2 linked regions of the Homo sapiens genome follow. The protein of the gene in region 1 interacts with the protein of each later gene in a pairwise test. Each region holds a gene or a part of one and is shown in the gene's direction. Other genes may lie near its edges.

Region 1 (4,098 bases):
GACCTTGTTTCCCAGGTGATGCTCATGTAATCTGCGGTGACCTCTGCCCCTTCCCATCTGACCTCTGTCCCCAGGAAAGATGGCAGGCGTGCGAGGGCTCATCCTGTCCGCGGCAGTTGTGCCCCTCGGGCTTCTGCTCCAGTGGTCCTGGGGCAGGGCAGCTGGCGCTGATGCCCAGGCTCTGCCTGGGGACAGTTCCCAGGACGGGAGCCTGAGGGCAGCGCACGGGACCAGCGTGAGGACACGGACTGGCCCGTGTCTGCCTCTGACTTGCTGGGTGTGCCTTTGAGTTCCTCTGAGGGTGGGTGCGCCGAGGGGGATCCAGCTGGGCCCTGGCCACGTGCAGGCCAGCCAGAGCCCTGGAGCCTGCAGGTGGGCTGGGACAGGGCTTGCGACCGCAGGGGTGGTGTGCGTTTGCGCTGGCGTCTGCACAGGTGTGTGCGTGCTGTGCCATCACGCTGGTCAGGCCTGTACGCCGTGGAGAGGGGCGCTGTGTGGGGCTCGCTGCCTGAGCCCTGGGTGGACCGTGGCTGCCCCATGAGTTGTCGGGGACCTCCGCTGCCCCTTGGACCTCGCCCGCGGCCCTGGGCAATGGGTGTGGTGACGTCCTGGGGCCCCCATGAGTCAGCTCGTCCTCGTGCCCGGGCACTGGCCTCTCCTTCCTGTGGGCGCACAGCCCCGGTTCCTCTGAAAGCTTCGTGGGCCGGGACCCGGGATGAGCTGGTTAAACCCTGGCCCTGTGAGCAGGAGGTGTGGCTTCGGGGGGCGGCCCCGCCCTGGGCTCAGACTTGATCCTGCACCGGAGGGAGCCATTCTGGAAGGCCGCTGCCCCGGGCCCTGTCCCTCCCCCTCTCATCCCCAGGGTGCTGGCCAGAGCCGGGCTCACAGCGTTTCTTAAAATTAACGATCCCGGCCGGGCGTGGTGGCTCACGCCTGTAATCCCAGCACTTTGGGAGGCCGAGGCGGGTGGATCACGAGGTCAGGAGATCGAGACCATCCTGGCTAACACAGTGAAACCCCGTCTCTACTAAAAAGACAAAAAATTAGCCGGGCGCGGTGGCAGGCGCCTGTACTCCCAGCTACTCGGGAGGCTGAGGGAGGAGAATGGCATGAACCCGGGAGGCGAAGCTTACAGTGAGCTGAGACCGCGCCATTGCACTCCATGTGGGCGACAGAGTGAGACTCCGTCTCAAAAAAAAAAAAAAAAAACGCAAAAAAAAAAAAGATCCCGTCACACTGACCCAGCTCACTGTTCTCTTACCAGCCTTATTTCGGTGTGGTCCTTAGAGCATGAGCCACTTTTTTTTGCTGGGAACATAATCCACGTTTGGTAAAATTCGGCAACGTGTGCACGCAAGTGGTTTTTGTACAGCTGACCCTTGAGCAGGGTGGGGTTTAGGGCAGCAGCCCCTCATGTAGCAAAATACCCTCGTATAGCTTTCGAGTCCTCCAGATGCCGCTGCCGACAGCCTGCTGGTGACCAGAGGCCTCGGGAGGACACGTGGTCCGCGCACACATACCTCGTGTGTTGTGTTAGGTGCTGCGTTCTCACAGTGAGGGAAGCTGGAGACCAGAACATGTGGAGAAAAGCAGAAGGAAGAGAAACCCTGTTTGCTCTTCACGCAGTGGAAGTAATGCTCATGGAAGCCTCTGTCCTCGTCGTGTTCACGTTGAGGGCTGAGGAAGGGAGGGTGGGTCTCGCTGTCTCGGGTGGCAGAGCGGGAAGGAGCCAGGAGAGGCTGGCGCCCTCAGGGCAACCTTTATTGAAAAAATCCACGTCAGAGTGGACCTGTCAGTTCAAACCTGCCGTGGTCAAGGCTCCTCTGTGAGTGCAGCCACCACCTGTAATTCCAGAGTGTTCTCATCACCTGCAAAGGGAGCCCTGGCCCCATCAGCAGCCAGCCTTCCACACCATCCTTTCCAGAACCTTCCCACCTTCCCAAATTGAGACGCTGTCTTCGTGAAACGTTCACTCCCGTGCCCTCTCCAGCCCCTGGCACCCCCATCCTACTTTCTGGCTCTGTGACTCTGAGGGCTCCAGGGACCTCCTAGGGGTGGAATCACACGGGATGAGGCCTGGTGTGTTTGGCGTCTCTCACTGAGTGTGACACCCTCGGTGCATCCGCGCCATGGCCCGCGTCCGAGTCTCGCTCCTGTTCGTGGCTGAGTCGTGTTCCGGCGTGTGGGTGGCCACGTGTTTATTTCTGTGATAGATGTTTGCATGGCATCCGCGTGTGGCTGCTGCGAGCACCCGTGTCCGGTTCCCGTGTGGCTGCGTGATTCTTCTGTCAGGTGGACTTCTAGCGGTGGAACCGCTGGTCACAGGGCCACTCCCGGTTGGACCATTTGAGGAGCCGCAGACGGCCATCCATACCTGCACTGTTTGGGTCCCCTGCCGGGTTTTGGGGACTGGATCTCTGCACAGCGACGACCACTCCCCTCTTCCGGTGACTTGGTTTCTCCTGTCCTTCGGCCCGATGCTTCTCTGGCCTGCAGGGCATCAGGGACCCTGCTGTCCTGATCCCCATGCCGTCTAGAAAGCCAGGGGTCCTGCATGTGCCCGGTGTCCCCACTGCCTTGTCAGGCACAGGGCCAGATCCTGCACCCTGTGACGAGCACGGCCAGTGGGACAGACAGATGGATGTGCTGCCCGTGACCTTCGCCACAGCGAGTTCAGAGGCCGGAGGCATCCAGTGTCCACAGAGTGACCGGTAGGCCCCAGCCCCACAGGATCATCGAGGTGGCCCTGGCCTTTCGAGGCCACAAAAATCAACGTTTATTTTTATTTATTTTATTTATTTATATATTTATTTATATATTTATTTATGAGACGGAGTCTCGCTCTGTCCCCCAGGCTGGAGTGTGGTGGCGTGAGCTCTGCTCACTGCAAGCTCTGCCTCCCGGGTTCACACCATTCTCCTGCCTCAGCCTCCCGAGTAGCTGGGACTACAGGCACCCGCCACCACACCCAGCTAATTGTTTGTATTTTTAGTAGAGACGGGGTTTCACTGTGTTTGCCAGGATGGTCTTGATCTCCAGACCTCGTGATCCGCCCTCCTCGGCCTCCCAAAGTGCTGGGATTACAGGCGTGAGCCACCGCGCCTGGCCATCAATGTTTATTTTTAAGTAGCAAAAGAGAACTCAGCAGTGTTGGAGAACTTGAACATTACAGCAACATCTGAAGAAGATGTTCTTTCACAAACCTCAGATTCCAGGAGATGAGCACCGTCCGCTTTCCAGAGAAAATTGTCTGAGGCCTCTGGGAGACAGGAGGGGGTGCACTTAGAAACAGCCAAGGCCTCCTTCCATGTTGGGACGGACGGGCCTTCCTGGGCTGGCCCGGCCTAAATCTGCTGCCGCCCACCGAACACCAAGGCACCTTCTCGTGCCCCAGAGGCCACCAGCACCCGTCCCCCTGCCTCCCTCCAGCCAGTGTCAGGTGGGGACCTGGCCGCTGGAAGGGAGGTGTCACCTGCTCTGGGGCATCCAGGAGGGAGGGGCTGCGGGAGTTTTGCTGGAGACCCTCCAGGTGGGGGTTATGGGGTATCATGGCGGAGCGTGTTGGGAAGTTTTCGGTGAGCTGGGCGTTTATTCGCCTTGGTGCCCCCCTAGATCCCTGGGTGATCCCCGTGCCCAGTTTTCAGGGGAGACCATGGGGGTCAGAGAGCTGGCCAGGCGGGTGGTCTGTGTCTGTCCCCTGCTGTTGAAATGAGGGGAGGTGAGAGGAGACGCCGTGTGCCTGGGGAGGCAACACTTTCTACCGTTTGCTGGTTTATAAAAATCAAAGATGGCCAGGCACGGTGGCTCACGCCTGTAATCCCAGCACTTTGGGAGGCCGAGACGGGCAGATCACGAGGTCAGGAGATTGAGACCATCCTGGCTCTACTAAAATACCCTGTCTCTACTAAAAAAAATACAAAAAATTAGCCGGGCGTGGTGGCGGGCGCCTGTAGTCCCAGCTACTCGGGAGGCTGAGGCAGGAGAATGGCGTGAACCCGGGAGGCGGAGCTTGCAGTGAGCCGAGATCGCACCACTGCACTCCAGCCTGGGCGACAGAGTGAGACTCCGTCTCAAAAAAAAAATAAAAAAAATCAAAGA
Region 2 (3,297 bases), on another chromosome or scaffold:
AACACTGTCTCTATTAAAAATACAAAATTAGCCAGGTGCGGTGGTGGGCCCCTGTAATCCCAACTACTGGGGAGGCTGAGGCAGGTGAATTGCTTGAACCTGGGAGGCCGAGATTGCAGTGAGCTGAGACTGCGCCACTGCACTCAAGCCTGGGTGCTAGAGTGAGACTCTGTCTCAAAAACAAACAAACAAAACCAAAAAACACAAAGCAGGGTAGCAACCCTTATATCAGATGGGTAGATTTTAAACCAAAATGCATTAAGCATTACAAGGAAAGATATGTTTTAATGCTAAAAAAAATTAAGATATAACAGGATTATACAACAAATAATGATATCCCCCTTTATATAAGGAAACAGAAATCCAGTGACAGTTGAAGACATACTATTCTCAGTATAAGACAAATCAAATAGACAAAAAAGAATATAATACACCTAAACAACATAATTACTAGGGTATATCTTATGCTCTATGGAACTTTATAACCTGAAAATAGATAATATAACTTCTTCTTAAGTACAGATAGAACAGTCTCAAAAATGTTCAGAAGTTAGCTCATAAAGAAAACATAAGCTGGGTGCAGTGGTGCATGCCTGTAATCCCCCAGATACCTGGGTGGATTGTTTGAGCCCAGGAGTTCCTGACCATTCTGGGCAACACAGACCCTATCTCAAGAGAAAAAAGAAAGCAATAAATGTATAAAGTAAAATATTACAAACAGTATTCTCTAATCACAGTGCAAAAGAACCCTAGAAATTATTGATAACTTTTTTTTGTTGTTCAAAAGGGCCCCTCCACCTGGGTATAAACCCATCAAACAACTTGTGGGTAACAGGGAAATATAAGCTGAAATTAAATTTTCTTTTTTAAAATTATTATGTTCAGTAATTATTATACTGTCTTTTTTAAATATCAACTTTTATTTTAGATTCAAAGGGGTGTATTTGCAGGTTTGTTACATGGGTATATTGTGTGATGCTGAGGTTTAGGGTACAATTGATCCCATCACCCAAGTAGTTAGCATAGTACCCAACAGGTAGTTTTTCCACCCTTGCCCCCCACCACACCTCCCCTTCTAGTTGACCCCACTGTCTACCACTGCCATCTTTATATCCATGAGTATTCAGTGTTTAGCTCTCACTTATAAGAGATTATATGTGGTATTTGGTTTTCTATTCCTATGTTAATTCACTTAAGATAATGGCCTCTAGTTTCATCCATGTTGCTGCAAAGGACATGATGTCATTCCTTTTTTATGGCTGCATAGTAGTCCATGGTGTAGATGTACCACATTTTCTTTATCCAGTCCACTGCTGATGGGCTCCTAGGTTGATTCCATGTCTTTGCCATTGTGAATAGTGCTATGATGAACATATGAGTGCATATGTCTTTTTGGCAGAATGATTTATTTTCTTCTGGATATATACCCAGTAATGGGATTGCTGGGTCGAATGGTAATTCTGTTTTAAGTTCTTTGAGAAATCTTCAAATTGCTTTCCACAATGGCTGAACTAATTTGCCAGTAAATAAAAAGGGATTAACAAATGTGTAACAGGCAAATAGAAACACAAAGAAAGCAGCGTAGCAACCCTTATATCATGTCATTTGGTTTAAAATATCAGATTGTAAACCAAAATGCATTCCCTATTCTCAGTCACTTTGCCAACATCTGTTCTTTTTTGACTTTTAAAATAATAGCCATTGTGACTGGTGTGAGATGGTATCTCATTGTGGTTTTGATTTGCGTTTCTCTGATGATTACTGATGATGAGCATATATTCATGATTGTTGACCACTTCTGTGTCTTCTTTTGAGAAGTGTCTTCGTGTCTTTTGCTCACCTCTTAATGGGGTTATTTTTTGCTTGTTTAATGTTTAAGTTCCTTATAGATTCTGGATATCAGACATTTGTTGGATGCAGAGTTTACAAATATTTTCTCCCATTCTGGAGGTTGTCTGTTTACCCTGTTGATAGTTTCTTTTGCTGTGCAGAAGCTCTTTAGTTTAATTAGGTCCCTCTTGTCAATTTTTGGTTTTGTTGCAATTGCTTTTAAGGACTTACGTCATAAATTCTTTTCCTTATGTTTTATTTTTCTGCATATGGCTAGACAGCTATCCCAGCACCATTTATTGAATAGAGAGTCTTTTTCCCATTGCTTACTTTTGTCAACTTTGTCAAACATCAGATGGCTATACATGTGCAGCTTTATTTCTGGGTTCTCTATTCTGTTCCATTGGTCTTTGTGTCTGTATAACAGCACCTTTCTATTTTGGTTACAGCTTGAAGTTAGTTGATGTGATGCTTCTAGCTTTGTTCTTTTTTATTAAGATTGCTTTGGTATTTGTGCTTTTTGGTTCCATATGAACTGTAGGATTTTTTTTCTAATTCTGTGAAAAATGATGTTGGTACTTTAATGGGGATAGCAGTCAATCATGCAATTTGTTCTGTAGGTTTCTTTGGGCAGTATGGTCATTTTCACAGTATTGATTCTTCCAATTTCTAATGGTTTTAGGATCTTATTTGTATCATTCTTGAAGGGCAATTAATTATTTGCTATTTAATTCTAATTTTCAGGTAAGGAAGATACTCCCTCATTACTTGGCCTCTGTGGATCTCTAACGTCAGTGGCAAGTTACAAGTCTCTAACAAGCTTAAAATCTAATGACTACCTTGCAAGTCCTACAACAGAGATGACAAGTCCAGGCCTAACTCCATCCTGAAAATTTTTGTGTAAAAGCCAAAACTTTTTATGTTGTAAATGTTTAATTTACATGTTTGACTGCTGGGAAGACCTTTGAAATTTTATATTGTTCTGGTACATGTCTGAAATTCTATTGCTTGGAGAGAATCCCCTCCAGATAAGAGATTTTGAGTGAAAAACATAATGATCCTGCCATTTTTCATTTTTAAAATTCTTACATTTGTCATTGAGAAAGTTCAAAATGGAATAGGCTTTAAAAAAAAAAAAACTTTCAAAGATCCGCCAAATCATTCATAGCAAATTGTACATATTGTTCAGCTGATTTTTATATATTTAAATACACCTTAGTGGCCAGAGACTGACTTCAAGGTTTTATTCCAGAGACTCCAGAGACTTAAGCTAAGTATTTTTTCATTCTTTCAGATTTTCAAAAAAAAAAAAAAAAAAAGTTAATTTCATTTTTTCATTAATGTCTTCCTAAGTTCTATGCTTTAAATGCCTTGTTTTTAATAACGGGAAAGTTCTCAGCTGCATTTTCACAGTGGCTTATTCAGTTTTTCTTTAATATTTACCATTTGGTATCAATTCAGCATTCC

What was found.
Region 2: the proteins of CSNK1G2 (region 1) and RUNDC3B interact in a two-hybrid assay, tested with the Homo sapiens proteins (one large-scale study listed by BioGRID and IntAct).

What each region holds. Positions count from the first base shown.
Region 1 is NC_000019.10:1,947,331-1,951,428, forward strand, and holds part of CSNK1G2 (casein kinase I), read left to right. Parts: intron 1-4,098. UniProt on the Homo sapiens protein: Serine/threonine-protein kinase. Casein kinases are operationally defined by their preferential utilization of acidic proteins such as caseins as substrates. It can phosphorylate a large number of proteins. Participates in Wnt signaling.
Region 2 is NC_000007.14:87,827,311-87,830,607, forward strand, and holds part of RUNDC3B (RUN domain-containing protein 3B), read left to right. Parts: intron 1-2,574; coding exon 2,575-2,720; 3' UTR 2,721-3,297.